Linked DNA regions of Homo sapiens. The protein of the gene in region 1 interacts with the protein of each later gene in a pairwise test. Each region holds a gene or a part of one and is shown in the gene's direction. Other genes may lie near its edges.

Region 1 (7,818 bases):
AAATATCCTATACTGCACAAGACAGGCCCCCACAACAAATCACCTGACTGAAAAGGTTTGTATTGCCAAGGCTAAGAAACCATTTTTAATTTTATGCCTACAATGGCATAAAAGAAGAAAATCAACAGAGAAAGATCTTTCAGAACTATCAGATTAATCAAAACATAAATGCAGAGACAGCAGTATACTAGATTCTAATTTTGATTGTGAAATTGGAAATCTCAAACTCTTGAGTCTTCAGAGGACAAGTCTAGATTAGTTTTCTGAAACTTAAGTATCAATGACTGAACAAAATATTTCTAAGGACAAAAAAGAATTATGATATCCTCACCTAGTCATTCAACATGAAGACCTTATTATACAATCTTTTACAACAAGAATCTGAACCAACTTATTTTGCTAGAAGGACTTGTGATGGTAATGTTAATCTTTTATGATATTTGTGCCAAAAATTTATTTGAAATGATTCATATGTGGACACATGCTGATGGCAGATACGCAAATAAAGGTGGATGAAAGAAAAAATATGTAAAAATTAAAAATGCATCAAATTATTCTAACTAGTGTTTAGAAATCTAAAAATGAAAATATTTTGCAATTATGAAGCAAAGATGACTGACTTCAACAAAATTGCATGCTTTCAAAGTTCACAAAAGTATCAAGTTTTGACTATGCAAATGCAAGAAGCACTAAGAGTAACGATAAGCTAGCACCTATCAGAGAGGTATTTCAAACTATTTACAGCTAACACCAGTCTAATCTTTAAAAAATTAAATATAGGTCAGTCATGGTGACTCACACCTGTAATCCCAGCACTTCATGAGCCCAAGGCAGGAGGATCACTTGAGCCCATGAGTTCAAGACCAGCCTGGCGCAATACAGTGAGACCCTGTCTCTACAAAGAAAACACTAAAAAAAAAAAAAATTAATTACAGCCGGGCGCAGTGGCTCATGCCTGTAATCCTAGCACTTTGGGAGGCCAAGGCAGGCGGATCACGAGGTCAGGAGATCGAGACCAGCCTGGCCAACATGGTGAAACCCTGTCTCTACTAAATATACAAACATTAACTGAGTGTGGTGGTGCATGCCTGTAATCCCAGCTACTTGGGAGGCTGAGGCAGGAGAATTGCTTGTACCAGGGAGTCAGAGGTTGCAGTGAGCTGAGATTGCACCACTGCACTCCAGCCTGGTGACAGAGTAAGACTCCGTCTCAAAAAAAAAAAAAAATTTAATTACAAAACAAGATGAATCATATGTTACTTTGCACAAATAACTACTTAATCCTTAAGTAATGAGCTAGCTACCTGGTACATTAAAAATGTGATTAAAGTCATCTAATATTTAAGCACATTTATAGTGCACAAAGATTCTTCCTTACTCTTTAATAAAATGGAAGAAAATCATTTGTGGAAACTAAAATTTCTTTAGTAAGATTTCAGAATACTAGGAAAATACTATTAGTTTCACTGTACACTTTGAAATTAAATCAAAAAGAAATTTGAGGCAAAACCTCAAAACTGCTATAACCTCTGTACTTTACTAGAACTGATTTCAAGGCAAAATGTTTGCCAAGGACTTTCTGAGAGATGAATAAATGACAATGTTCTGAAAAACAGAAGAATCTCTTGAGTTTGATAGTACGATTCATAGCTTAAGGCTTTTAAAAAAATAATAGTGAAATAAAATTAGAAAAATGCTATACCTTAACAGACTGCAAGATGCTAGTCCCATGCTCTGTTTCAATTTTGCAATTATCACCCTCAATACTTTGAACTTCTACACAGCCAGACCCTGATGACTTGATATCTAAACCTAGAAGTAAAAAAAGAAAAAAGCAAGTTAGTACTGCAGTTTATAAGCTCCAAAGCATTTTAACCTAGAAACCCAACTCCTCAGTTATGTCCATAATATTGCTGAATCCTGGAAAGTGCATACTGTAAAGGTAAGGGGTCTTCTACCACGGCAACGGGACCAAATACAATAGCCTTTCTGCCCGTTTTTAGAAACAGAGCAGTTATTTCTACTGGCCTAAATCACCTAAAGAGAACTAACATAGATGGGAAGTAAAGGAGACTACGATTCTGTTAAGTACTCCTGTGAAAGACTGTAGAAGCCTCTTCCCCAGTATATATGATCATGACTTAGGTTTTCAAATCCTATGTCTAACCTTTCATACTTAAAAAATGAAAATATTACCATGCAACTATATCACAAGGTATTTGAAGTAATTTTTTAAAAATGGGAACAACTTTGAAAAACCTAATATATACTATTAAAACTACAAGATTAGGCCATGAGCCGTGGCTCATGCCTGTAATACCAGCACTTTGGGAGGCCGAGGAAGGAGGATTGCTTGAAGCCCAGGAGTTCAAGACCAGCCTGGACAATGTGGCAAAACTCCCTTTCTACAAAAAAACAAAAACATTAGCCAGGCATGGTAGCATGCACCTGTAGTCCCAGCTACTCAGGAGGCGGAGGCGAGAAGATTGCTTAAAACCGTGAAGTCAAGACTGCAGTGGGCCATGATTGTGCACCTGTACTCCAGCCTGCATGGCAGAGTGAGTGAGATGCAGTCTCAAAAAAAACCAAAACAAACAAACAAAAAACCCCACAAGATTGTGGACAAATGGCAGTGGTACATGAAGCAAGTTTGGAAAATAAGGAATTACAAATGCCATCCTTGGCTGTCTATTTAAGATGTAACTGCAGGCATCGCTGTATACAAATTTTAAAAATTAAAAACGCTGATATTTAATTTGGAATTAACATAAATATTGATGATTTCTCTTAAAGTAGGCAAGACCCGCCCCCCCGACTTGATTCCTGAAACCACAAATAGTACCAAATCCTATATATTCTATGTTTTTTCCTGTATACATATCAATGATCAAGTTTAATTTATAAACTAGGCATAGTAAGAGATGAACAACAATAATAATAAATACAGCAATTATAACAATATACTGTAATAAAAGTTATATTACTGTGATCTGTCAAAATATCTTAATATTTTCCTACAACAGTTGAGGCAGGTAACAAACTCAGACAGCCAAACGGTGGATAAGGGAGGACTACGGCATCTACTATTTGGGCAACTGTAAGCATTATAAAAGATGATCTTAAAAATGCTAAATGCTATTATTATTACCATCATCATCATCATCAATATCTTCCTTCAGTCCCAGGAAGAATGACAGTCTGGGGAGCCCTTCCTAGAAAAGTGTGTGTACACAGTGGCTTGCCATTTAGGAAAACCTAAGAAAGGTATCTTGCAGGCATTATTATTGAAGCTTCCTAGGCAGGCTTACCATGTGTTTTTCTTCAAAGCTTGCTACTCATGGAAAACTTAGGCCAAAAAGAATGGAAACATAACAGTAAGAAGCTGGGCGCCCGTCTAAAACCAAATACTCAAACCAGGTGGTACCTGGAACATCCTATTGACAGGGCTGTTTTGGGACACACCCCCAGGCTGTGAGCAAGGGGAAATGTAGATGGACTGCCATACCATTGAATGAATTGTCAAGAAACTTCAACCTTGAAAAATAAGCCAGTTTGCTAATGACAACGGGATAAAGAAGAACACAAGCGGCTCCAGAAATAGAATTTGACCTGGATTATACCAAATCGTGTTTCCATTCGATGTATAAAATTTCTATAATTGGGAACCTAATTTTTTAAATACTACTCGGATACTCAAGAATAGAACAGAGGAAAAGTTGCATTTCCGAAGGGGCCAACTGTAAATTAGGTTTAGAAAGCCAGGACCAATTAAAAGTGCACGTCGACCAAATTTATTAAGTTCACTGTGCGTTCCCTGGGACCCAAACCCGTTTTCACTTCACTTCACTTGCCAAACTTCAGGGGCGCGTTCACCTCCACGGACGCCTGGGGGTGGATAGTATCAGACACAATGGCCATCTCCTCCAGATCCTCGTCGTACTTCACCTGCAGGCCGTCCAGGCCCCGCACGCCGCCCTCCACGCCGCACACCGCGACCAGCACGCGGTCGCCATCCGGGTAGGTGAGGGGGTCCAGGGGCCTCACGGCCAGGTGGCACGGGAGCCGCGCCCGCAGCCGACCGAACGGGCTCACCTGCAGTGTCCACTCCTTCAGAGTTCGGCGCGCCGGGCCAGGCGGAGGGACCTCAGTCTCCGATCCGGGCCAGCGCTCGCCCCTACCTGAGCTGTACGGCCTGGCTTGGCAAGCCCAGCAAGACCAGCGCCCAGCGCCAGCCCACAGTCGGACCTGACGGAGACAGAGACGGAAGCAGCCAAGCTCCCAACCTGAACAGGGGGCAAGCATGGCGCGCCTCTCTCGCCAGTCCTCAGAACACTTCAGCCACAGGGAGGGTCACTTGCCACGGCCAATCGACTTGGCCACTGTGCCGCCTCAAGTCAAATAGGAGACGTAAGTCAGGGTTTGCTGAAACAAGAGCGAGCCGGTTGGCTTGACTAGGCGATGTAAACATCAGCTGCGTAATCCCCAGGGGCAAGTTGGGATTTGAAAGCTCTGAACTCTGACCTGGACCCCTTGCCTAAGTCCACCCCCTTTCGCTAAGGCCGACGGGATACGTAGTTCTAAAGCGGTGGAAAGTCGCAGAGCTCCGCCTCTTAGAAACCACATATCCCAGGAGGCAATGCGCAGGGGAGCACGGGTAAGAGGGCAGGTGTTAGAATCGCTGGAAAGGCGGGCGCCCTTTGTTTCAAGACCATTGGCTATTGGAGGGGCGGTACATGGGAGGCCACTGGCCAATGGGAAGCACGGAAGGGGGCAACGAGGGTAAAGCTGCATGGTCACCTTGGATACCAAGGACGCGACTTCTTGTTTGGAGAGGGTGGAGCTTTGGAGTGAGACCCAGGAGGCCAAATCCCAAAGAGAAAAATAGGAGCCTAAATAAGGATCAGGACCAAGGGAAGGGGTAAGAAACTGCGCTTTTTAAGTTGACAACTAGGTGCAAACTAGGAGTAACCTATGTGGATGTCAAGATCCAAGCTTCACTAACCTAGTGCGGGCATCTCCAGGGCATGGAGAATGCCTTGGTAAGAGAGTAAAGAGCAAGATTGGTGCTTTTTGAGGGAATTGCCTCTTTGGAAGTGTATTCCCTCCTATATTCCAAATATAGGAATAGAGTACTTGCTCCGTCCTGACCCTAAGTGACCTTACTTTGGGTTTTAATTTGCTCACTTTAAAAATGTAGATGATAATACCTTCCTTGCCTTGCCTCAAAGGGTTTTTGTGAGGATCAAGTAAGAAAATGGATGGGACCGTGGTGCACAGTCTACCAAATTACCGTGTAAAGTACTGTATTTTTATTTCAACGTACTTAACATTGATTCTGAGTTACCAAGAAAATTATGAGAGATCAGAACTTGTTTTGAGAATAGCATTGATCTCTTTGACTACAAATGATCATCAGTTTTAGAGTGAAAAAAAAAAAGACACAAAAAAGAGAGTCACCATGGTGCGGTGGAAAGAGCAGGGACAAGGGTCAGATTATTTTCCTGGCTCTGCCACTGCTTCATCTGTGTCACCTAGACCTGTTTCTTTAGTTTTAAAATGAAGAAAGATGGTTCTAAATGACCCTATAAGGTGTGTGTGTGTGTGTGTGTGTGTGTGTGTGTGTGTGTGTGTGTGTGTGTGTGTTTACCTTTTATAATTCTATGGGCAGTAAAATAATGGGAACAGAAAGATTTATTTTCTTCTTTTTTTCTTCTTTCCTGCCTGGTTTCTCTCTCCCCCTCTGTGCCCCTACTTCCTCCTAAAATGTATTCCCTAAATTATTTAGCCAAGACACCTGCAAACACTAACATTTCATAAAATGCAAGTGCCTTAAAAAATTGAAGCCCTTACCCAAGTACAATGACCAGAATTCTTGGGGCTATCGTGATAGATAGACTGGGCTAAAGTTCTCATGGGTACAAGTCTCAGGTTCTCTGCTAGCCACTACCTTTTTAAAATTTTTAAAAATTCAGTGTTCTCTTAAGTTATCATTGCCTCTTTTCTGTCCTTCTAGTCCTTGCTCCCTCCTTATTCTTCTTTCGGTGAAGACTCACTCATTATAGGTGCTAGCTCAGGTTCAGCAAGGGCCCACTGCAATAGTTCTTTTCTTGTCTTTGTGTTTCATTGGTTATAATTATTCAGAATAATCTTCAAACTATTTTTTATGAAAATTGACAGGTGTAACTTTGAAAAGAAATTTGAAAAAGGCACTGGTTTAAGGAAGTTGAGAATGTACTCAAATTTTCTGTAGAAACACTAGACATTTTTAGATTAAATATTAATTCTTAATAGTTAATTCTGTGTCTATGGTAATTTTTCCGTTTCTGAGACAAACTAAGTTAATGGAATTGGCAACTGAACTATAATTTTCTATGTTGCATAATCATTATTTTACTTTTTCAAACAAAAACCAAATAGAATTGACTGAAAATTTACTTTGCTGATCATACAAGGTTGAAAATGGAGAAAATTATTAATATTAAGATTGGTATAAAATAGTTAAAGTTATAGACACTTAAAAACAGTATAATGAGTATCAAATCTGTCCACATATCAACAATGATTAATAAAAGTTGTATCTTCCATCCATATGACATTATAATTGTCAAACCATGTTCACATGCGTCATCTCACTGTATCCTCACTAATTAGGAGGGAAATTATTCTCCTCACACTATAGATGGGGAAACAGATTCAGAAACATTAAGATTAAGCAATTAGAAGGTCTGGCCCTTTTATCACTCTACCAAAACGTCCATTTTCCTGACACCTTTGAAGAAAAAATGAAATTATTCACCTCATAAGTAGAAAATTATATACAACTTTTTTCTCCTTATTTAGAGTTTGTTTCTAAGATATTTTCACATCTTAGTTTAAAAAAGCTATTTCTGTGGTCATGAACATATACTTCTGGTAGGAGTGTTAAGTTAGCACAAAATTTTTAGAGTTCAATTCAGCAATAAGAATGAAAAGCTTTTTCTATGACTCAGAAATTGTGCTTTTGGGGATGTAAGCATAAAATTAGGGATGCTCAAGGAATTATGTTTTATAGGGTTACTTGTAAGAGAAAATAATTGCATCAATTTAAATGCTCCCTGGCCAGGTGCAGTGGCTCATGCCTGTAATTTCAGCACTTTGGGAGGCTGAGACAGGTGGATCACCTGAGGTCAGGAGTTCAGGACCAGCCTGGCCAACATGGTGAAACTCCATCTCTACTAAAAATTAAAAAAATTAGCTTGGCGTAGTGATGGACACCTGTAATCCCAGCTACTCAGGAGGCTGAGACAGGAGAATCACTTAAACACAGGAGGTAGAGGTTGCAGTGAGCCGAGATCACACCACTGCACTCCAGCCTGGGCGGCAAGAGTGAAACTCTGTCTCAATAAAAAAATGTTAAATGCTCCCAAATAAGACAGTATTACATAAATTAGTATATAGCTGATATATTATGCAACAATTTAAACATATCTTGATATGGGAAATAGTCCATATATAAAGTGAAAAGAATATATACAAAATTGCACGTATAGTATGATCTCAATTGTGTAATAATAATAATAAATTTAACATAAAATTATACTTTACAGAAACAATTCCAGAGGGATATATACCACTTGATAACAGTTGTTATCTTTAAGCAGTGATATGATGAGTGGTTACTGCAATTTTTTGTGTGTTATCAATAGTGAAAATATATTACATTTATAAGAAAACAATTTTAAAGCATTTCTTAGCATATATTGTTTCCTAAAACTGACTCAAATAATCAGATGGGCAGAAGATTTCTTACCATCTAGATATAAATGTCAACGAATATTT
Region 2 (7,147 bases), on another chromosome or scaffold:
CCATAATGCCTTCCTCTTCTCTAGGGGCAGGTCTCTTGCCTGTGTCATCAAATGTGATCTACCTTTGGTTTCTCTGTAGGATTTATAAAAAAAATTACTATGTAAGAAATGTACTGTCAGGATTTTGGTTTTAGAAAGTGGGATCAAGTGGTACGCTGGAGCTAACTCTTATAACTCACAAGAGCCGATTTTTCACATCTCTTTCCAACTCCACATTCAGTGACATCATATTGTTTGCTTGAAGTTGGCTATTGTGGGAGTATTTACACCACAGAAATTGGCTTACACTACAAACTGGAGGGGTTTTCCCCCCAGAGAGCTAATTTGCCGGCATATCTCTGGTTGTGTATTTATCCACATTGCTTAAGAATCTATGATTTTACTTCATTGTTTCAGCATACAAATATCTTTGCTTGGTGCTACTGTGTTTCTCATTACCTGCTTACATAATTAAACACACATGGATGCAGAACCTACTCTGTAGCCGGGCTCTGTGCCAGAGTCTGGGGATATGGAGATGAAAGAGGAAAAAGCAATGAGACAAACTCCCTGATGTCCTGGAGATCCCAAGTCCATGGTGGGGAGCTACCACCTCTGATACAGCCACAGTTTCCCAGGGTGAGAAGAGTGTGTCAGCAGAGGGAGAGCAGCCTACCTGGGAAGCCAGAGAAGGCTTTGCAGAGAGCATGAGTGAGCCCACACAGCTCAATCTATCTGTGACAGAGAACGGCCACTGAGCTGTTTCAGACTCAGCATGTTTCATAATCATGGGTTTGTAATGAGCAACAGAAAGCAGTTCAATATTTTCCACAATGAGGATCTTTGACCTGTGCCAAAGATCTGTTTTTATTCTGGTTGAAACAGAATTCTATATTTTCTTCCCTTCTTAGGGTCTTGCTTCTCAAAGATTTTCCAACTCTTTCTAATTCATCTTCTGGAGTCTCTTCCCTCACTATTGCTTGCCAGGGCAGGGTGAGCCTCCTGAGCTACTCTCCAAGTGGGTCGATTGCAGTGAAGCCTGGAGCAGCAAATGATGCCATCAGAGGCAGGTGTGAGGCTCACAGGTCCCAACGCACGGGCCCCGGTTTCTGTGCCTATGTGCAGAGGTGGAAGCTCGTGACTGTCATCCACAGGAGAGGATAGGACTTGTTTCCCACACTCATGCCAACACTGTGTGCTATTATCCAACTTAGCAAAACCTGATAAGAAAACAATATCTCTTTAGTTTGTATTTCTTAATCACAAATGAGCATACATTCATATATAGATAAAATCATATTTAATTTGAACAGAAGTGTACCTTTTCCATTCATCAAAGCCTCAGGAGTTGGATACCTAGAATAATACATTTATATGCTCAGCCTCTTCTCTCAAGAGTCTTCATGGTTTCTTGATCTAGGATTGTTTGGGACACCATTTTCTAACACCCTGGAGATGTGGCAGCACTAACTCTACATATAGTACTTGTCATAAATCTTTGCATTCACTGCAATGTGTGATGGGTGACGTTCCCACACAGGGCACAACTCCCTAGATGCCTCCCTGCATCTTCCAGCAGTAGGAGCCATGACACAGAAAAGATAAACTTTGAGTTAGGCACAATCTCCAGGTGCTAGCCTACAGCTCCATACCTTTCTCTCCCATTGGTTGAGATATGCCCCTATGTATCAAAATTAGTGAAAATGGCATTCCAAGACCACAGCTCCTCACCTCCATTTGCAGTAGACTTCATGCCTCTAGAGATCGGCATGTCTAAAGTCAGAATCCACACAGAGAATGTTGTGCACACAGGTGAATGAAGGAGGGCAGCAGGCTCCCATCTCTCACACTCTGTATTCATCACTTCTTGTTACTGAACCTGGCCTCATATTCGGTCACCAGGGGCCACAGGGACTCTTTTTAAAGGGTTGGGAAGGAAGAGAGTCTTAGGATCCCCACCCGCTCCTTCACCTCCTTTGAGAAAATACAAATCAGGGGAACAAAGCGATTTTACAAAGAGCCATGCAACATCAGTATCATTATGCAAAACAGTACAAGGTAGAAGCCCAAGCCAGGACCCAAGCCAGTTGGCAGAGAGGGGTGTCATCTGGACACACAAGGCTTCAGCAGTGATGAGTCATGTATTGTGAATGGACGAAATCGTGGCTTTTAGTCCATGGAATGAATCTGGGCAGAGGATAAAGCCAAAAGATGGGTGCTACTTAGCAAATCAAAGGAAATGACTTTAAAAGCCTGGCTCTCTGATTTATAGAGAAGCTTGTTGCTATGTGATGAGGCGGAGGAGAGTAACAAAAGGGTGTTTGAAGATGTAACATATGCAGATTGCACCCAGTGGCCTCTGGAGGATGGGACAGCCTGCCCTGGTGATGTCTCCCAATGATGTTGTCTGTAAAGGGTTATGGATTGGTGAGCTCTGAATAACCCTTAGGTCAGCGCTCACTACTACTTACTTTCCTGAGAAGCCCAATCTGGACTGAATTCTCAGATTCTGTATTTCTTCTTGATAGAACTCCAATAGCCTGTGTTTCACATATGCACGTCTGATCCCTATAGAGGTGTATGTTCAGCTTTTGTTCAATGCTCAGGGGACTGGCAAAAACTCATTTTCCCAAAATTCTAGTTATAATCACTTTGGATTGTTCCACATTAGGTTTTTCTTAGTCTCAGGGGTCTATGTATCTTCTGTCACAAATTTTGGGAGAAAAGTTTTGGGATCTCAGCAGCCATGTGTCTTGGATCCCTAGTACCAAGAACTATCTGAATGTGGAATGTGTAATATAACCATTTTAGGGACAGGACTTTCCCCTGGCATCTTCTGATTTAGCCCTTGGAGAAACTCTGTTTTATTGTATGAATACCTCCACATCTGTATTTTCTGAGATACAAAGGGAAAAATACACAATGTCAGATTTTTGTTTTACATCTTAATTTCAACTTCTTGCCCGGTTTCTAGGAATTTGAATCCTTCTTAGTTCTAGCAATGACACAGTAGTTATCCTTGGGGTGGAGGATTTGGAGGTGGTCAAGGTGAAGAAACAGTTTCTGGAGTTGAAAGAAGCTGATGTTGAGAATAGGCTTTATACTTTATAGTGAGGTTGATCTTAGAAAACTGTCCTCAATGGCTTGTTTATTTATTTTGTAAAATTAAGAGTACCCACCTCCCAGGTTGGAAGTAAAGATTAAAAGGTATCATTGCTCAATCCCCTAGCTCATAGGGTGAAGGCTCATGACTGACTTTAGAATAAAGGAAGCAAGGTATGAAGAGAGCCCACAGAGGCTCTGATCACTCAATGTCCTTTGACTTTCATGACCAAGTTCTTATTTGAGGTTCAGTAAGATTATTGCTCATTTCTCTTTGTTTATTTCTGGCTTCTTGAGCTTGCCCTTCTTGGTCGAGATAAGCCATGGTTTTTGGAGTCATCCTCATTTTCATGAGCTTCTCAGATACCTTGTTTGAAACATCACGTCTACCCAAGTTACAGTTGTTCCCCAATGGCAGGAACTATTTTGTGCTTAACCAACTATATATCAAGCATCAGCAAGGTGCGTAGCATATGGGACGTAGCCAGGGGATGTGTTTTGAGTGACTGGATTCATCTAAGTCTTGTTGCTCCTCAAAGTGAGTCTGAAAGGCAACCAACTAAAGAAAGAAGAAATGTAGGACTTCTTGATAACCCAAGGCCATAACATCCACCAATTCCAAGACTCAGTTTCTTCCCTGGATAGGGAAGGCTGGTTGAGTCTTAACCCAAGTGAGAACCATTGTCATCACCGGGGTTAGTCCTCCTGCTACACCACTGACCAACAGGAAAGTTTGTGTCTCCAGAGTGGACACATCCATAAAGAGGCCAAACCCAGTCAAGGTCTAAGCATCTGATGGCTATAACTTTGCTTCTTTGAAAGATAATAAAAAGCTTCTGACCTCCCATCAACAGCCAACCTGATTTCAAAGAGCCAAGAGGCCTCAGATTCGTCAACATTCCTTTAACGAGCTGAGAAACTTTTCATGGTAAACTCAGCAGCTGAGTAACAGGATGATGGCACCACAACAGGTAGATAATCAAGGCAGGAGGTCAAAGCATTGGAGCCAACACCCGCCCAGGATGGGGTATAAAAGGGCTGGGAGGAGAGGAGGCTTCAGTCTCAGTGGTTCAGCTTTCCCAGCTGATCTGAAGCTCCTGTGCAGCCTCAGCCCAACACCATGACCTCTTCCTACAGCAGCTCCTCATGCCCTCTGGGTTGCACCATGGCTCCTGGAGCAAGAAATGTCTCTGTCTCTCCCATCGACATTGGGTGCCAGCCTGGGGCAGAGGCCAACATTGCCCCCATGTGCCTTTTGGCCAACGTGGCACATGCCAACCGAGTCCGTGTGGGGTCCACTCCCCTGGGCCGCCCCAGCCTCTGTCTGCCGCCTACCTGCCACACTGCTTGTCCCTTGCCAGGGACCTGCCACATTCCTGGCAACATTGGAATCTGTGGGGCCTATGGTGAAAACACCCTGAATGGCCATGAGAAGGAGACCATGCAGTTCCTGAATGACCGCCTGGCCAACTACCTGGAGAAGGTGCGCCAGCTGGAGCAGGAGAATGCGGAGCTGGAGGCCACACTCCTCGAGAGGAGCAAGTGCCACGAGTCCACCGTGTGCCCCGACTACCAGTCTTACTTCCACACCATCGAGGAGCTCCAACAGAAGGTGAGGTGTGGGATCGCTTGGGTGTGCTGGGTCTGAGATGGCAGAGGCAAGACAGGAGGAATCCATGTAAAGCTCAGAGAACTTTGGGTTCTTGGTTTCTCTTGGACATGATCATAGACACCACACGTGGAGAAGGAGCCTAGGGCATGATGCTTTGTGTGTGAACTGTCTTCCTGTTCTCCTCAGATCCTGTGCAGCAAGGCCGAGAATGCCAGGCTGATTGTACAAATTGACAATGCCAAGCTGGCTGCCGATGACTTTAGGATCAAGTAAGTCAGGCGGAGGAGGGCCAGGGTGACTCCTTCCCCACCCTCCATCCCAATGCCCAAATACTTGTTGAGTGAGGGAATCATTGTCATTTCTTCCTTGCTAGATTCTCTACAGTAAAATTTTCATTACAATCGAAGCTGATGGAAGATGGAAGGGAAAACTCCTCATTAATCCAAGCATATATGTTTGTCTTCCTTCATTTATTTCCCTAAAATGGAGGATAAGGCAGCCTGAGTTCATTAACCAGGAGCAAAATGAGGTGATTTGAAGGATGAACTGAGCAAGACAGCCATTGGGTTTCATATATAAGTCAGAGGAGTCACTTACAGATGAGTCTTTGTCCAGATTTAATTAGGGAGCCCTAAGGTACCAGGTATAAGGTACCTAGGCAAAAATGAGAGAGGGGAAGACAGCTGAAAGCAAGGGATAAGGAGCCGCAGATCACGATCAGGCACCTGGTTATTGCTTATCTTTGGTAACTGACAGCCCCTGCAATGGCATGAGCGTTGGACTGGGTCCCAAGATGCATGATCTTACGCAAGTCAGTTGATCTTCCTGAACTGCAGTTGCCACAGAATACAATGGCAAAAATGTATATTGTGCAATGTAGTGTTGTGATTTCTCCATTAGACCATGAGCTCTTTGAGAAGAGGGGCTGGGTCTAATTCACCTTTGAGGACAGAGGGCTAAACAGAGTGAATAAATGAGGATCCAAGGTGGTGTGGGAGGTAGGAAGCCAGGGCAGCCGAGAGGGGCTCTTGGGGGCATTCTTTTTGACCCTGTACCTCCTGTGATGAAAGGCTGGAGAGTGAGCGCTCCCTGCGCCAGCTGGTGGAGGCAGACAAGTGTGGGACACAGAAGCTCCTGGATGATGCGACCCTGGCCAAGGCCGACCTGGAGGCCCAGCAGGAGTCCCTGAAGGAGGAGCAGCTCTCCCTCAAGAGCAACCACGAGCAGGTGTGGCCCTGGGCGCTCAAACTCCTGGGGAGGGCACTGGGCAGACAGGGGAGCTCCCCAGCCCCGGGCTCTCAGAGCATTGCCTGGCCTCAGCTGGCATCAGGATGCAGGGCTGAGGTGGGTCTGAGGGTCCAGAGGGCCTCTGTGGAAAGTGCAGACTTGCCTTGGGCATGAGGAAGGTGTGCAGGTGGGCTCTCCCGAATGCCCTCTGGGCAAGACTTTCCCATTTGCTTGTGTGTGGGACTCCCCTCCTACTGCTTGCCAGGGGCGGGGTCCTGGTGCTGTCTGCTCCATCAAAGGCCCTTTCCTCATGCAGGCTGTCTGTCCCTTCCTCCCTTCTGCAGGAAGTAAAGATTCTGAGGAGTCAGCTGGGGGAGAAGCTCCGGATTGAGCTGGACATTGAGCCCACCATTGACCTGAACAGGGTGCTGGGGGAGATGCGGGCTCAGTATGAGGCCATGTTGGAGACCAACCGCCAGGATGTGGAACAGTGGTTCCAAGCCCAGGTGAGTGGGGGGGGTATAGAACCAGGGGGTACCTGGCCTCCATCTGGGCAGGGAGGTGACCGTGTCTCTCTGTGCTCCAGTCTGAAGGCATCAGCCTGCAGGACATGTCCTGCTCCGAGGAGCTGCAGTGCTGCCAGTCGGAGATCCTGGAGCTGAGATGCACGGTGAATGCCCTGGAGGTGGAGCGCCAAGCCCAGCACACCTTGGTACGTGTCCTTCACTCTCACTGCACTGCAAATGCCCCGTGCCATGGCCTAGTAGCATTTTATTTTGGAGGTCTCACTACCCAAGTTTCTCCCACCTGTTATCACCATCAAAATTTGAGGCATGTAGCAGTTTCCCTTGGGGCCTTGTATATTTTATCCCCTTATTTCCCACTACAGAAGGACTGTCTGCAGAACTCCCTGTGTGAAGCCGAGGACCGCTTCGGCACGGAGCTGGCCCAGATGCAGAGCCTCATCAGCAACGTGGAGGAGCAGCTGTCTGAGATCCGGGCCGACCTGGAGCGGCAAAACCAGGAGTACCAGGTGCTGCTGGACGTGAAGACCCGGCTGGAGAATGAGATTGCCACGTACCGGAACCTTCTGGAAAGCGAGGACTGCAAGTACGTGTGATCTGGGCAATTCCTGGCCAAATTATTTACTCAATTCTGATGAGGTCCTCAGGGCAGCAGAAGGGCTGTCTCTATGTAGAATGAGGCTCTCTGTGCACTCCTTTTCAG
Region 3 (7,020 bases), on another chromosome or scaffold:
GGGCGTGGGGGGGCACCCAGTTGAAGAAGGGCAGGTGGGAGGGGGTTTGGGGAGGGATTGCCATGGAGGGACCTCAGATTTGGTGTCAGGTGTGGGGAATTGGGGCAGAGGAGGCACAGTCCTGAAGTGTTTCAGGTGGGTCAAGAACAGCCCTGAGCCAGGCGGAGTTGGAGAGAGAAGTGAGGGGCATTGGATGGGGGGGTCCTAGCAGAGCTGAGGGGTCTTAGTGGGAGTGGGTGGGGCGCTGGCAGTGGGGCCCTCGCCTGGGGTTGAGACTGTGCAGCACGAATGGGCCCCAGGGGAGCGAGGCTGGGGGTATCCAGGGTGAGGACTGAGCGAGCAGCTGGACTCTCACATCCAGGCTCAGGGTGGAGGGTGCCAATCTGGGAGGTGGGAGGTGCCGGAACCATCACCCTGAGTAGACTGGCATAGCTGCAGAGCTCTAGATGGAGCAGGCTGTGTCCCCTGCCCTCAGGACTCTATGCTGGTATCAAGTTCTTCCTCATTGATTTCATCTTTAAACGCTGCCCGAGGCTGCGCGCCAAGTACGACACGCCCTATATCATCTGGAGGAGTCTCCCCACCGACCCGCAGCTCAAGGAGCGCTCCAGCGCCGCAGTCTCACGCAGGGTGAGCCCGGCCCCCAGCTGCGGGGATGGGGGGATGGGGGGCCACGAAGCCGGGCATCCCCAGGCCCACAGTGCTCTGTTCACCTCCGGCTCATTTAGAGGCTGTTTCTTCAATTTTATAGACTCCTTAAACTTGAGGGTTTTTTTTTTCCCTGTTACCACTGCGGTTTCTGAGGCTCATCCAGCCCCTCCCAAGCCCAGGGCAACACCTGGGGACTGGCCATGATGACTGAGAGCCAGCAGGCCTGGGAGTGACCACTCCATGGGGGTGCCCGGCCCCTGCCATCCCTGACAGTGAGGCTCTGGCGCTGAGACCAGGCAGTTTGAGAAGGGCCCCCTTGGAGCCACAGCCTGGCACTGGGCCATATTTCATTCACAGTCACAGGCCCTCCAGATGTGCAGCACAGCATCCCAGCCAGGACCACGGGGAATGAGCAGGCCTCGGTGCTCCCTTCGGGGTGGCTCAGATGAGTCAGGAGGGTTGCTGGGCTCTCCCCACTGAGGTGAGGTGGCCCTGCCTGGAAGAAGGAGCCGCTCTGGGCCGGAAGGGACCTCGGGAACGTCTTCCCAAATTTGGATCCCAGCTTTTGGGGAGGTGTGTGTGCGGCCAGCACATCTGGGTGCTGCAGGCGTGGGCAGCGGGCCTGACCTCGACGCTGTTTGCCGTTGGCAGCTGCAGACGACCTCGTCACGGAGCTACGTACCCAGCGCACCGGCCGGCCTGGGTAAAGAGGAGGACGCCGGTCGCTTCCACAGCACCAAGAAGGGCAATTTCCACGAGATCTTCAATCTGACAGAAAACGAGCGTCCGCTGGCGGGTATGTGTGCCGTGAGTCTGAGGCCAGGCCGAGCGCCGACACAGACTGAAGGCCCGTGAGGGGGGCGCTGTGGATGCAGGACGGGGTCGCCCTGTGACAGGCCAGAGGAGCCCTCAGGATGGCATTCACATCCCACTGCCCCAGGAGGAGTGCAGGAGCCAGGGGTCATGAGGACTCTGCGGGCTACAGGGGAGGAGGGCGTGCCCGTGGGGAGAGCCGCCCACGCTGCAGCACTCCCCTGACAGCAGGCGTGCAGGCAACACACTGGGGAGAGAGTCCAGGGCGAGGCCTCAGGGCCTGCAGGGCGCTGGCAGGGGGTCTGCCCCTGGTTCCATCGTGTCTGGAGAAACAAGAGCCACCAGGGGACAGGTGACTCAGGATCCTGGGGACAGGTCAGCTTTCCCAAAGGGAGGGCCTGTTAAACTAAACCGGGCAGCTCGAGGTGTGTGATGAGCGGCTGCAGAGGCAGCTGCGGAGAACGGAGCTTCGTCCTCTGCTGAGCCCTGGCCCTGCCGGTCTTGGTGGAGGTGGTGTCCCAGCGCCCTGACCCTGCCGGTCTTGGAGGTGGTGTCCCGGCCACACTGTGACTTCTGTTGCTCCCTGCTCTGCCTGGGTGCTTTTACTTTAAAAACCCTGCCAGTGCCTGTTGAAGAGGAAACATCTGTTTTCCACCCTCTGGGGCCACCTCACTCTTGCCGGCGCGCCTTCCTCTCACTGTGGGTGTGACGTGAGCGCGGTGGGCGGATGTCAGGATCTGAGAGTCAGGCTCCTGGGTCCCAGCGTCAGGTCAGAGGCTGGGTACTTCCAGTGGAAAGTGTGACAGGCGGGCCTTCTCCCATTAGTGTGCGAGAATGGCTGGCGCTGCTGCCTCATCAACAGGGACCGGAAGATGCCCACGGACTACATCAGGAACGGGGTGCTCTACGTCACGGAGAAGTGAGTGCAGCCGTGGGGCCCTGTGTGGCTGCAGGGGAGGGGGCGCAGGAGGCTGCCTAGGCCCTGGGATGGCGTGGCTGGCCCAGTGCAGGTTTTCCTGAGTGGTGGCCATGGCCTCTCCCATGCTCTGCTCTTGCCGGCTGTCTGGGCTCCCAGGGAAAAGGTGTTGTCTCCAAGCCGGACGTGGCCTGGGCTGTACTGCTGCCATCCCTCAGGCTGGCGGGGATGCTGTCTTCTCTGGGGCCCAAGCAGTTCATGGAGACGAGGGGCAGAGTCTCCCAAGGAGGGGACCGTGTGGGGACCTGCTATTGCTGAGGCCCTGAGTCCTTGTTGCCCTGAGTGCCTCATGCAGAGCAGTGGCCGTGAGTGTCTCACTCAGAGCAGTGGCTGTGAATGTCTTATGCAGAGCAGTGGCCGTGAGTGTCTCACTCAGAGCAGTGGCCGTGAGTGTCTCAGAGCAGTGGCCGTGTCTCACTCAGAGCAGTGGCCGTGAGTGTCTCAGAGCAGTGGCTGTGAGTGTTTCACACAGAGCAGTGGCCGTGAGTGTCTCATATAGAGCAGTGGCCGTGAGTGTTTCACCGGTTCTGTGTCTGCTGGGAAGGGAGCACCACTGTCCATCCCACTGGGGGCTGAGAGGCAGCCCCGGGAGACCCCCACCTGGTGGGAGCGTGCTCTGGTTCAAGAGCCAGGCGACGCCTCTGTCCGTTCCCCTTCCAGTTACTTGTGCTTCGAAAGCTCCAAATCTGGGTCCTCAAAGAGGAACAAAGTCATCAAGCTAGTGGACATCACGGACATCCAGAAGGTTGGTGCACCTACCCACCCCCACTAACCCCCGTGTTTTCTTCGTCACCTGACAGAGGCTGGCGAGGCTTTCCCTATAGACTTCTGCCAGCCTCTGTCAGCATCTGGGCGCCGCGGCCACGCTGGCCGGCCATGGTCCGTTTCCTTGACTTGAGTCCCCATGTCCCTGTGGGTCTGCCCCTGCCCTGGGGTCCACTTGCCTGGACCGTGTGTCTCAAAGTGGAGGGGCTGGGTTGGAGCCCAGGAGGTCAGGACCCAAGCCCCACTCTGGCTGCTGTGTTCCCCTCGTATCTGGGACCCTCCCCATAAAGAAAAGCACAGGGGCCCTGAGCCCCTGCCTCGGATGCAGGTTTTCAGGTGGGAGCTCAGATGGTCGCGCCCGCTCTGGGCATTTTCTCAGCATTTTACCGTAGCATGGAATGAGCAGGTGGGCGTGGCCACAAGTGCCTGTGGTCCCTTGTTTTCTGGGGCAGGGAAGGCTCAGTGAGGCACTGGCAGGCACACTTGGCCCGAGTGGTCAGGGCCCCCAGCTCCCTCCCAGCTCCGAGCGTCCTGGGCATGTCCGCATTGGCACGGCGGGCACTCCCGGCCCCACGGCAGTTGTGGGTCATCTCTCCCACCCGGCTCTGGAAAAAAGCGTGCAGTCAGGTGACCAGAAGGGGTGAGTTCAGGGCTGGGGTCCTTTCCGCCTGCCTCTTGGGATTGGCGGTGCTGACAGATGGCCCTCCTGGTGCCAGGCCCTGAGAGCGAGTTCTGGGGCTGAGTGCCTACCGTCAGCCTCCTCAGGCCGGCTTGTCTCTGACCTTCCTCAGGCCAGCTGGCCGACGGTCTGGGCTGGGGTGGGACAGACCCTTTACAGGTCTGGTGTCTCGGCCACAAAGTGAGGAGGTGTCCACAGGCCCTTACCTTCTGTTGTTTGGAAGTCCCAGGTGCCCGTGGGCCCTGCTGCCTGTGTGCCCAGTGGAGGAGGATGCCCTGGGCCTGTGGAGGGCTGTGCCTCCCTGTCCCCAGGAGAGACCTGTGGTGACGGCCACGCTTTGCCTTTCAGTACAAGGTCCTGTCTGTCCTCCCAGGCTCAGGCATGGGGATTGCCGTGTCGACGCCATCCACCCAGAAAGTAGGTGCCGGGCGGGGGGCCGCCAAGGGGTTGGTGTGGGCCCAGGGGCCTGACTCTGAGCAACCCTGGGACCAGCGTGGGGCAGACAGCCAGAGTTTTAGTTTGGGCAGCAGGGTCACAAAGCCGCCCCCTCCCTCGCAGCAGCTAGAGCCTGGGGCTGCGTCCAGGTTGGGTTGGAAATCTTGCTGGGGCCATCGAGTCACCGGACAGACAGGGATGTTGGGCACAGGGGTCCCCTGACTCAGTGACTTGGGAGGAGGGAGGCACGGGGCTAAAGCCTGGCTCCCCTCTGCCTCTTGGCTCTGTTCCCCTGAAGGCTGGAGCCTGGCTCCGGGTGGTGGGGAGACACCTGTCTTTTGCACCCAGACCCACGTGACTAGCGTGCTGGCCTGGGGCTGGTGTTGGACTTCGTCTCGGTCCTGGTCCTGGCGCCAGCCTGGCTGTGCCATGCTCACTGGTGGCATTTCTTCCCTGCCAGCCGCTCGTGTTTGGTGCCATGGTGCACAGGGATGAGGCCTTCGAGACCATTCTCAGCCAGTACATCAAGATCACCTCAGCGGCAGCGTCTGGCGGGGACAGCTAGTATTGACTTGCCCAGGACGTTGCTGGAATTTTCTTTTTCTTTTTCTTTTTCTTTTTTTTTTTTTACGATTTGGTAGTGGAAACAATTGGACATCCTCATGAGCTTTTGCAATAATTCTCCTGGACCTGTGGTTCTATTGTGTTGACCTCTGCGTTTTATCGACCAAGAAGGGGCCAGGGCTCACAGGGACGGGGGTGCCCCTCTCCCACAGGGCACGTCAGGTGCCTCTGAGGGCCACCCGCAGACTGGGGGAGGGGGCAGAGGCCCTCGGGGGCCCGTGGAGAAGACACACAGGACCCCTGGCCCTGCCCTTCTCCGTTCCAGCCTGGACAGAGAAACCTCTCCAGCCACCCCAAGAGGTTCTCGCAACCTTGTGTCCCGCTCTCCAGAGGCCAGAAGCTCGTCCACCACCAAAGCCATAGCTGAAGAGTGCGGGGCCCTTCCTCCTGGGGACAGAAAGATGTCGTCAAGGAGGGACATGGGGGCCTTTCACCAACCACCGAGAAACGGGCCTGGCGGCCCTCCTTCCTCTTACATGAGACCCTCCTGTGGCATTTGCCCTTGGTGCCGGGCTGGGGCCGGGCGCAGTGACCCTGCCTGCGCTCCACACTCGCTCCACGGGAACAGAGAGGGTGAGAAGGGCCCACCCCTCGCCTGCCCTCAGTGTCTTTGGTGGCACCTTCCTTGCTGGCCTCCAGGGCGCTCAGCACCGCGTCTGTAAGGGCCTGCCTGCTGCTCTCGGCCTGACACGCCGGCCAGGAGGTCTGTAGCTGGGGACCAGTAAGGGCACAGGATGGTGCAGGTAAAAGCACATCTTTCTCACACTTTGCTCTTTGGAAGGCCCAGGAGAACATCCGCGAAGGCTGTTGGAGGTGCTCCGAGCACTGTGGCATGTCTGGCACATGGCCCCCAGGCTGCGGTTGCCTGGGTTGGTTGGGGGAGGAAGTGGGGAGGAGTGTTCCGGGACCATGGTGGCCCAGGCTGCAGCCGCCTTTGGGCCATCCGAGAGGCTCTGGCAGCCCCTGTGCTTTAGGGAGCAACCGTGAGCCGAGCCCAGAGGCCTGGGCCTGCACTGCCTGCAGCCGACATGCGACAGCGTTCCCTCCCCCGCGTGCCTAGCCGGTGCCGGTCCGGGCACAGACCCCCCCAGCCCCCGCCCTGCCCCAGGGAAGCCTGGGCTTCCCGGGAACAAGGTGGCATTTGTGGAGGGAGCGCCCGCAGGCCTGGTCTGCTGGGGCCGCCTGCGCTGGGCTGAAGGGAGGGAAAGGCGGCTTGGGCCTCCTGGAAGGAGGTGGCCACCCCGCGGGCCTGCGTGTCTGCTGGGGCGGATCCCGCAGCTCCCTCAGCTTGTCCTGAGTCCCTTGGGTGTCGTTGAGATTGTTGTTTTTTGAAGAAACAGAAGATTCTATTTTTTACAGCGAGCAAGCTGGTTTTCTTATTTTTGTATCCTTTTTCAGATGTAATTTTTATCTTTGCTCCGATCCTCATTTGCTGGTGTGGGTGAGGGATCCGGCGGCATGGGCTGGTTTCACCCCCTTCACGAGGGGCCGCAGAGTCACACGCTGGTGCCGGGGGTGCTTTGGGGGGAGCTGCGCCGATCACCAGATTAAGCACATGTCCTATCCCAGGCGGTGGAGCGGAGCCCCCGTGGCTCTGGACTGCGCGGACGTTGGCGTCAGGATGACCACACGGCGGCCTTTCCCGAATGGGGACAGAACCCGCTCTGAGCCGTGGGTCTGGCTCCTGTAGGGGACTGGCTCTCTTGGTGCACCAGGGGAGGGGGACATATCCCAGTGAACCCCACCTTGGCGCCTGAGGCAACACAGGGTGGGCACTGACCCACCCCCAGGGGCGGCTGCAGAGGCAGTGCCCGCAGACAATGGCCACACCTCTCTCCCCAGGGCCCGGCAGTGCCCAAGGATGGGTCCGGGGCCTCGGGGCCAATGAGCGCCTCTTCCTAGGTGCTGGGATTCAGTCCCCAAACACAGCGGGAGGGGTCCCTGGGGCAGATGGGGCTTTACCAGCGTCGGGTGGTTTAGTTCGAGTCCCTTTTGTGGAGAAAGGGAGATGAAAACTGACCACGTGCCAGGTGTGGCCGAAGCCCCCAGGGAGGGCCACATTCGGGGAGCGGGGGGT
Region 4 (7,995 bases), on another chromosome or scaffold:
CCACCTTGGCCTCCCAAAGTGCTGGAATTACAGGTATGAGCCACCATGCCTGGCCAGATTTTCTGTTTGAACGAATATTGCCGGCATAATAACTTCTGGTCAAGTTTATTTATAAAGCTGCTTTTTTCTCTGAGATCCAATCCCTTACAACATTTGATGCCAGTCTTTTTAAACAGGTCCAGGTCCTGAAGGGTATCCAGATTATCACATAACTTTAAAGTGTGGAGGAGGCTTTTTGACTCCTTCTTTCAGGAGGGTGTAAAGATGCATATCCTCCAATGATAGTGAGCAGCATGTAGATTTTAGTATCTTGTTACATTTTTATTACTTATTTATTTTAGGGACAGGGTATCACTCTGTCACCCAGGCTGGAGTGCAGGGGCACAATCATAGCTCACTGCAGCCTCGACCTCTCTGGCTTGAGATCCTCCCACCTTAGCCTCCCAAGTAGCTGGAACTACAGGTGGGCGCCACCATGCCCAGCGATTTTAATATCTTGACAATGAGGCTTTATTGTTGAAACTGACTATAATGGAACAGAAAAAAATTCTTCCTAAAAATTTATACCAGTGGCCGGGCACGGTGGCTCACACCTGTAATCCCAGCACCTTGGGAGGACAAGGTGGGTCGATCACGAGGTCAGGAGATCGAGACAATCCTAGCCAATATGGTGAAACCCTGTCTCTATTAAAAATACAAAAATTAGCTGGGCATGGTGGCACACACCTGTAGTCTCAGCTACTCGGGAGGCTGAGGTGGGAGAATCACTTGAACCCAGGAGGCGGAGGTTGCAGTGAGCTGAGATCGTGCCACTGCACTCCAACCTGAGTGACAGAGCAAGACTCAGTATCAAAAAAAAAAAAATTATACCAGTGGCCTAAAAGTTTTCAGATAAACATTACATTAATAAAAGCTGAATATATGCCTTGATATCAATTACGCAATTACTACATTACTAATATATATATTATTAAACAAAAGAAACTGAAAAGGGCATCAAAGATCTCTTTATTTCCCATATGCCAATAATTCATCTCTACCACCTCCATCACCTTCCCGGCTGCACTCTCCCTTATGTAGAGGGCCGTGCTCTTGACTTTGCTGAAAAGAATGACTCTGGGTGAGGAGAGGAAGCATACTCATTCAGAGAGCAATTTCTGTTCTCATTACCACCCTCCTCGCTCCTACGTGTATTTCATCGAACCTCTCCTAATGCTCAGAGACTTGTGGAAGATGGTGACGGTGACTCATGGTGCAAGTGATGCTCAGCGTTCAGTGGCTTGCTGCAGGTCATGACAAGTGTGTGGCCAAGCTGGAATCAGAGCCCACGTCAGTCTAACTTCATCCATGAGACATGATGCTTTCCTCAGCCTGTGAACTTTGGCAAAAATCCGAAGTTTATTTGCTCAGGATTCACTGATTTCAGTTAAACCAGCCCGTTCCTTTTGCTGAGGGTATTCTGTCTGGTGAAAACCGATAGGGCTTGTCCCGGTGTTGTAATAGGTGAGGTGAAGGTGACCTCTTAATTCTGCTGGAATTGTTAGGAGGATTATCTTCCTTACAAAAGAGTGCAAGCAAACTGAACATGTTGGGTTCAGATAAGCATGCACTGACTTACAACAACAAATGGGTAACTGTGCTATCATGAGGTCGACCATAATGTTTGATTCTTTTTTTTTTTTTTTTTTGAAACAGAGTCTTGCTCTGTCGCCCAGGCTGGAGTGCAGTGGCTGTGATCTCGGCTCACTGCAACCTCTGCCTACCGGGTTCAAACGATTCTCCTGCCTCAGCCTCCCAAGTAGCTGGGATTACAGGTGCCCGCCACCATGCCCAGCTAATTTTTATATTTTTAGTAGAGACAAGGTTTCACCATGTTGGCCAGGATGGTCTTGATCTCTTGACCTTGTGATCCAACTGCCTCGGCCTCCCAAAGTGCTGGGATTACAGGCATGAGCCACAGTGCCCGGCCCCCATAATGTTTGACTCTTAATTTTTTTTTTTTTTTTTTGAGACAGAGCTTTGCTCTTGTTGCCCAGGCTGGAGTGCAGTGGCGCGATCTCGGCTCACTGCAACCTCCACCTCCTGGGTTCAAGTGATTCTCCTGCCTCAGCCTCCTGAGTAGCTGGGCATGCGCCCACGCCCGGCTAATTTTGTATTTTTAGTAGAGACGGGGTTTCTCCATGTTGATCAGGCTGGTCTCGAACTCCGGAACTCAGGTGATCCGCCTGCCTCGGCTTCTCAAAGTGCTGGGATTACAGGCGTGAGCCACTGCGCCTGGCCTGATTCTTAAGTTTTAATGCTTTCTTAAGCAAGGAAGAAGCAGTTGAACATGACTTCTGGACCTCTTAGAGCTGTGGGAAGTAAACCAGTGAGAGCCAAGCCCCTGCTTCTAATGGAGCAGCCTTGGAGAAAAGGAGCCAGAGAGAAGCCACACCTTCCAGATGAGTGATAACACTGGGACCACAACCAGCACACCCCCGCCTCCAGCTGTTCTTTTCTGGAATGGGAGGAGGTGGTAGTCTCCTGCCGCAGATTTGGTCCAAAGTAACAAATACAGCCTTGTTTGGCACCAGCCATACTCATCCCACCCAGAAGCCGAGAGTATGCCAGCCTGGGGCGAGTGGTGAAGGTGATGTGGCTAACAAAGGGGACAGGACTGTTTTTGTTTTGTCCTGGTTTTTTGAGACCGAGTCTTGCTCTGTTGCCCAGGCTGGAGTGCAGTGGCACGATCTTGGCTCACTACAGCTTCCGCCTCCTGGGTTCAAGCAATTTCCGGCTAATTTTTGTATTTTTAGTAGAGATGAGGTTTCCCATGTTGGCCAGGCTGGTCTCGAACTCCTGACCTCAAGTGATCCACCCGCCTCGGTCACCCAAAGTGCTGGGGATACAGGCATGAGCCAGAGTGCCCGGCTGGGATACGACTGTTATAAGTTCATGAAATGACTCAGGAGAACAATGACTCACTCATTCATAATTGTATTTGTTCTTTGACAGTGAAAAAAAACTACATTTCTTCAGGATTTTCATTTTAATGAAAAGTTTTCCTATGAAAAATCTAACTACCTTAAAATGATCTGTGTTCCTTGTAATGTGATTACTCTAGCCCTATGAAAGCATCTCGTGATAAATTGTCATACAAATTTGAGGCATCTTTTTTGTAAATTGTCAAGCCATTTGATTAATATTTAATAAGGACAAATAATTATAATAAGGAAATATCATGAAATTTGGCACCCGATTCAAATTCCATATCTTCAATTTTCTGCACCCAGTGCTCTTGGTCAATTACTTAATCCCGTGACTTAATCTCTACGTCATCTACTTCATCAGCTGCAGATGTACCTCACGGGGTTGGAGCATGCAACAGGTGGGGCATGTAACAGTAAATAAGGGTTTAGCACACTTTTTTGTAATGTTTTTAGAATTATCTTAAAATATTGACTCTTCTAGAATTAATAATTTAATTATTAATAAATATTTATTTAATAGTAAAACAGGCTTTAATAAGTATTTATTTAAGCATTTAATACTCTAAAACAGGCTTTAAGAGACTTCAAAACCTGACAATATGCTTGATGTTTATTTTCCATTTGATTCAAAGATTACAAAGTTTTCTTGTCAAGATGAGTAAGCTCAAGAGTTATGAAAGCTCAAGGGATGGTGAGAGTAAATGACAGAGTATCTGACAACAAGTATGTGTGAGTATCTTCACAGACGTTGGCCGTACCCAGGCTTAGAAGAGAAAGGAAGATTGGATTAGAAAAATAAGAGAAGTAAAGGAGGATGGACTGGCTGAGGAGGGGAGGGGGCACAGGAATAAATGTGGTCTATTTGAAGAAAGCTGGGGAATTGGGTTTTGGAAAAGAGAGTGGGTGTAGGTAATCATCTGAGATAAGAGAAAGGGTGTATGGCCAGGCGCGGTGGCCAGAACTTTTGGAGGCCAAGGAGGGTGGGTCACCTGAGGTCAGGAGTTTGAGACCAGCCTGGCCAACATGGTGAAACCCCATCTCCACTAAAAATACAAAAATTAGCTGGGTGTGGTGGGCGCCTATAATCCCAGCTACTCGGGAGGCTGAAGTGGGAAAATTGCTTGAACCTGGGAGGCGGAGGCTGCAGTGAGCCGAGATCGCTCCACCGCACTCCAGCCTAGGCAACAGAGTGAGACTCTCATCTAAAAAAAAAAAAAAAGAAAGAAAAAAGAAAAAGAGAAACGGTGTATTGAGATTCCATAAGGTAGAACCAGGTTCTGAAAGATCAGATAAGCAAAGCAGAAGAATTCTCATTATCCTGTCAGCAGCATAAAGAAAAAAACTCCCTGGTTTGATTAGCAGGGGATTGACTGACTGATGCAATAAAAACCCTCGGGGACAAAACTATAAAACTTAGAAAGCTGTGAAGAGTTCCTCCTCACTGAAGCCAAATATCAAGTATGAATTATCTGGGATTGTTCCCTGACCTCCCATCTGTGACAGATTCCATAGGCAGTTATCCCTACTCTTGGTTTTTCTTTCCACAGATACTGGAATGAACACTTCTCCAGCAAACGTTCTAGAAACTAACAAGTCAGGCATTATTTTCTACTAAGGAACAAACACAGTCTTGAGTGTTAGCTCGAAGGCTTCTTTCCTGTGAAATTGTCAATATACACTAGATTCATTAAGAAAGAAAACCCCAAACCTTAAGGAGCTAGAGGTGTTAGGCACTGTACATGGCACTGGAGATAAAACAAGATATTTATCCAACCAAGGTCAGGGCTATTAAGCATTTTCTGGGAGTCCATTAAAAATGTAAATTACGGACCCCACCGTAGATTTCTGGAATCAGAGACCCTGTGAAGAGGCTTGCGTTTTAATAAACTCAGGTGGTTCTAATGAGATTAATTGTGTGAATATGATAAGAAACTTCACAGACGCCTTCCTGATGGTGTGAGGGCGGGGCTGAGGGAGGAATTGAACAGATAAAATCTCTTCAGTCTCCACTGTTCCAGCTTTTTCCCTAAAGGAAATACCTTGGTTCGGTGTGGTGACTCATTCCTGTAATCCCAGTACTTTGGGAGGCTGAAGCAGGCAGATTGCTTGAGCCCAGGAGTTCAAGACCAGCCTGGGAAAAATACTGAAACCCCGTCTCTACAAAAAATACAAAAATTAGCCGGGTGTGGTCGTGCAGCGCCTGTAATCCCAGCTACTCAGGAGGTCAAGGTGGGAGAATCACTTGAGCCTGGGAGCTCGAGGCTGTAGTGAGCCGAGATTGCGCCACTGCATTCCAGCCTGGGTGACAGAGCAAGACCCTGTCTCAAAAAAAAAAAAAAAAAAAAAAAAGGAAATACCCAGGATTGCTACAAAGAAAGTAAGTGAGATTTTCTCTATAGATCATTTTCTTAATAATTGTTTCTTTAGATTTCTAAACTTGATCTTAGAATCTATGTGTGTGTGTGTGTATCTGTGTGTTATCAGGAAAAAGCCTGAAGAAAAATATTAGGAAAAACAAAATAAGGGTAGACAACATGCTGGGGACTTAATTCGTCAATTTTCCTTTGCTGTTTCTGTAAAAATATTTAGTCTCTGTCCCTCTCTCATTACACCTTCAATTTTTACTGGTTTAACATAAAATATCGTTTACAATATTTATTGTGCATCGAGTATGTCAGATGTAGACACAGGGCATCTCAAGGACTTAGTTTCTTATGGATGGAGAGTGACCCACAAGTAAACTTGTTCATAGAAAGATAAAATCTTTTCGCTACTAAGAAAATAAAATAAGGAGATGAGTAGTGGGAAGGTATTTCAAATTGAGTAGTGATGGAAAGGTCTCTCTTGGGAAGACATTTGAGCTGAGAACTGAAGAGAAGAAAGAAGAGGCAGCTGGAATTGCAAAAATATGAGAGAAGAGCTCTGTTGGCCACGGAAGGGGGAAGGGCTGTGATGAATTAGAGGCAGCTAGATTGACAGTGATGGGGGAAAGCTATAGAGAGATCAGAAGAAGGCAGGAGGCCAGATTGTATAGGACGGGGTTATTACCCACTTCGATCTTACTCTAATGCCATAGAAAGTGACCACAAACCTGCTCACTTGGTTTTGGTTTTAAAATAGTATTCTGGTGGTTGAGCAGAGAGGAGCTGGAGATGGACGAGGAGGGCAGGACAGAATATAAATTTGGAAAACAATAGTTGAATTGGTGAAAGGAAGGCTTAAACTGTGGCTCTAAAGGAATGAGTTTGGGGGAAGAGAGCCACTGGGTTGAGATCCTGAGCGGCTTTAGATATGTTAATTTTGAGTGCTCCTTAGACATTCTATTGCAAAAATGTTGGGAATTGGGCAGGAGATTGAAATCGGAGAATGGAACTTAAATCTTCAGAAACGAGTAAGATTACCTAGGGAGAGACCAGGACTGGGAGACCAGAACTCAACCTTGAAGCACCCCAAGATTGAGAGGTTCAGAGGATGTGGGACCAGAAAAGGCCACGGAGAACAAGACCAGACAAGTTAGAGGAATGTCAGCTGCAGACAGATGAGAGAAGAAAACATTCTAGGAAGAAGGGTGTGGTCAGCTATGTTAACTGCTGCTGAGAGCTCAAGGAAAAATTTGAGTTGGTGAATTTCTTTGTTTTGGTGACTCAGTGGAGTCATCTCGGACATGTTCAGGGACCTAAGACACGGGAAACCAGCAGGGATTTCAAAGACCTAAGCAGAAGAAAGGATGAGAGCATCAAAAACAAGGAAGGAGGGAGAAAGTATTTGCAACTCACACAATTTACAGGAACTTGGATCTATAGCTCTCTCTTAAAATTGACCCCTCCCTCCAAAAAGGCCAAACCTGATGGAATAAACTGAGAGAGAGGCTTGAACATAGACTTCACAGCAAAAGAAGTGAAAATGGTTTTTTAGCATATGAAAATAAAAGGCTTAGACATATTAATAATATAACAGATGGAAGTTGAAAATATATGAATACACTATTTCTCACCCAGCCAGTGGGCAATGATCCAAAAGTTTAACATCTTTTTAATTTGTTGCTTGGAGTGCAAAATTGTACAACTTTTGTGCTTGGGAAACTGACAAAACATATCAAAATTATGGATGCATTCATTCACAGTCCTATTTGTGGGGAATATGCCTTTTCAGGCCAAGATTCTCAACTTTTTGGAATCAGTACTCCTTTGCACTCATTATTGACGAAGATCCCAATAAGCTTTTGTTTATGAGCGTTAATATCTATGTTTACTGTATTAGAAATTTAAAACTGCATTTTATAGTTATTCATTTAAAATAATAAAAACAAGCCAGGCACGGTGGGTCACACCTGTAATCCCAGCACTGAGGCTGAGGCGGGCAGATAACCTGAGGTCAGGAGTTCCAGATCAGTGTGGCCAACACGGTGAAACCCCGTCTCTACTAAAAATACAAAAAATTAGCTGGGTGTGGTTTCACGCGCCTGTAGTCCCAGCTACTCGGGAGGCTGAGGCAGGAGAGTCGGTTGAACCCGGGAGGCGGAGGTTGCAGTGAGCTGAGATCGTGCCACTGTGCTCCAGCCTGGGCGACAGAGATTCGGTCTCAAAAATAAATAAATAAGTTAATAAAATAATAAAAACAAAAACATTTTTCTGAGAAAAAAGTTTTCGAGCTAAGTGGCTTTTTTAATAGAGAAAGCCAGAATTACAAAGGACTTAAGAAGGACATTGGGGCCCTTCTTCTTGCCAAAGATGGGCACAACGTCGACAAAGCGCCGGTGGTACCGCACCCGCGGCTCAGCCCGGCCTGTCTTCTCGCTTGGCCACCTTAGCAAGAGTCTGACCTGTCACTTTCCCAGCGCGGGCCGGGGAACCACGGACTTGGCCTCCCGGGCAGTCGGGGCCTCCCACTTCGCCCTGGTCCAGGGTGGCCTCGCCCTGCAGGGACGCGCCTGCCAGGAGCACGATAGATCTTCCGGGGCGAAGCCCTCCAGTGGCGCTGCCTGAGCCGCGACCTGGGAGACCGTCTCCTGGCCGGTCACCTGGAG

What was found.
Region 2: the proteins of CCDC146 (region 1) and KRT38 interact in binary tests that used the Homo sapiens proteins (3 or more experiments, as listed by UniProt).
Region 3: the proteins of CCDC146 (region 1) and GRAMD4 interact in binary tests that used the Homo sapiens proteins (3 or more experiments, as listed by UniProt).
Region 4: the proteins of CCDC146 (region 1) and TRIML2 interact in binary tests that used the Homo sapiens proteins (3 or more experiments, as listed by UniProt).

The regions. Positions count from the first base shown.
Region 1 is NC_000007.14:77,117,815-77,125,632, forward strand, and holds the start of CCDC146 (coiled-coil domain-containing protein 146), read left to right. Parts: upstream 1-4,800; 5' UTR 4,801-4,918; intron 4,919-7,818. UniProt on the Homo sapiens protein: Essential for sperm flagellum biogenesis and male fertility.
Region 2 is NC_000017.11:41,437,976-41,445,122, reverse strand, and holds the start of KRT38 (keratin, type I cuticular Ha8), read left to right. Parts: upstream 1-4,139; 5' UTR 4,140-4,201; coding exon 4,202-4,693; intron 4,694-4,879; coding exon 4,880-4,962; intron 4,963-5,763; coding exon 5,764-5,920; intron 5,921-6,264; coding exon 6,265-6,426; intron 6,427-6,506; coding exon 6,507-6,632; intron 6,633-6,809; coding exon 6,810-7,030; intron 7,031-7,147.
Region 3 is NC_000022.11:46,672,368-46,679,387, forward strand, and holds part of GRAMD4 (GRAM domain-containing protein 4), read left to right. Parts: intron 1-475; coding exon 476-630; intron 631-1,008; coding exon of another isoform or gene 1,009-1,131; exon of another isoform or gene 1,132-1,279; intron 1,280-1,302; coding exon 1,303-1,447; intron 1,448-2,289; coding exon 2,290-2,383; intron 2,384-3,100; coding exon 3,101-3,185; intron 3,186-4,232; coding exon 4,233-4,301; intron 4,302-4,779; coding exon 4,780-4,884; 3' UTR 4,885-5,208; coding exon of another isoform or gene 5,209-5,310; 3' UTR 5,311-7,020. UniProt on the Homo sapiens protein: Plays a role as a mediator of E2F1-induced apoptosis in the absence of p53/TP53. Plays a role as a mediator of E2F1-induced apoptosis in the absence of p53/TP53. Inhibits TLR9 response to nucelic acids and regulates TLR9-mediated innate immune response.
Region 4 is NC_000004.12:188,106,594-188,114,588, reverse strand, and holds the start of TRIML2 (probable E3 ubiquitin-protein ligase TRIML2), read left to right. Parts: upstream 1-4,985; 5' UTR 4,986-5,346; intron 5,347-7,995.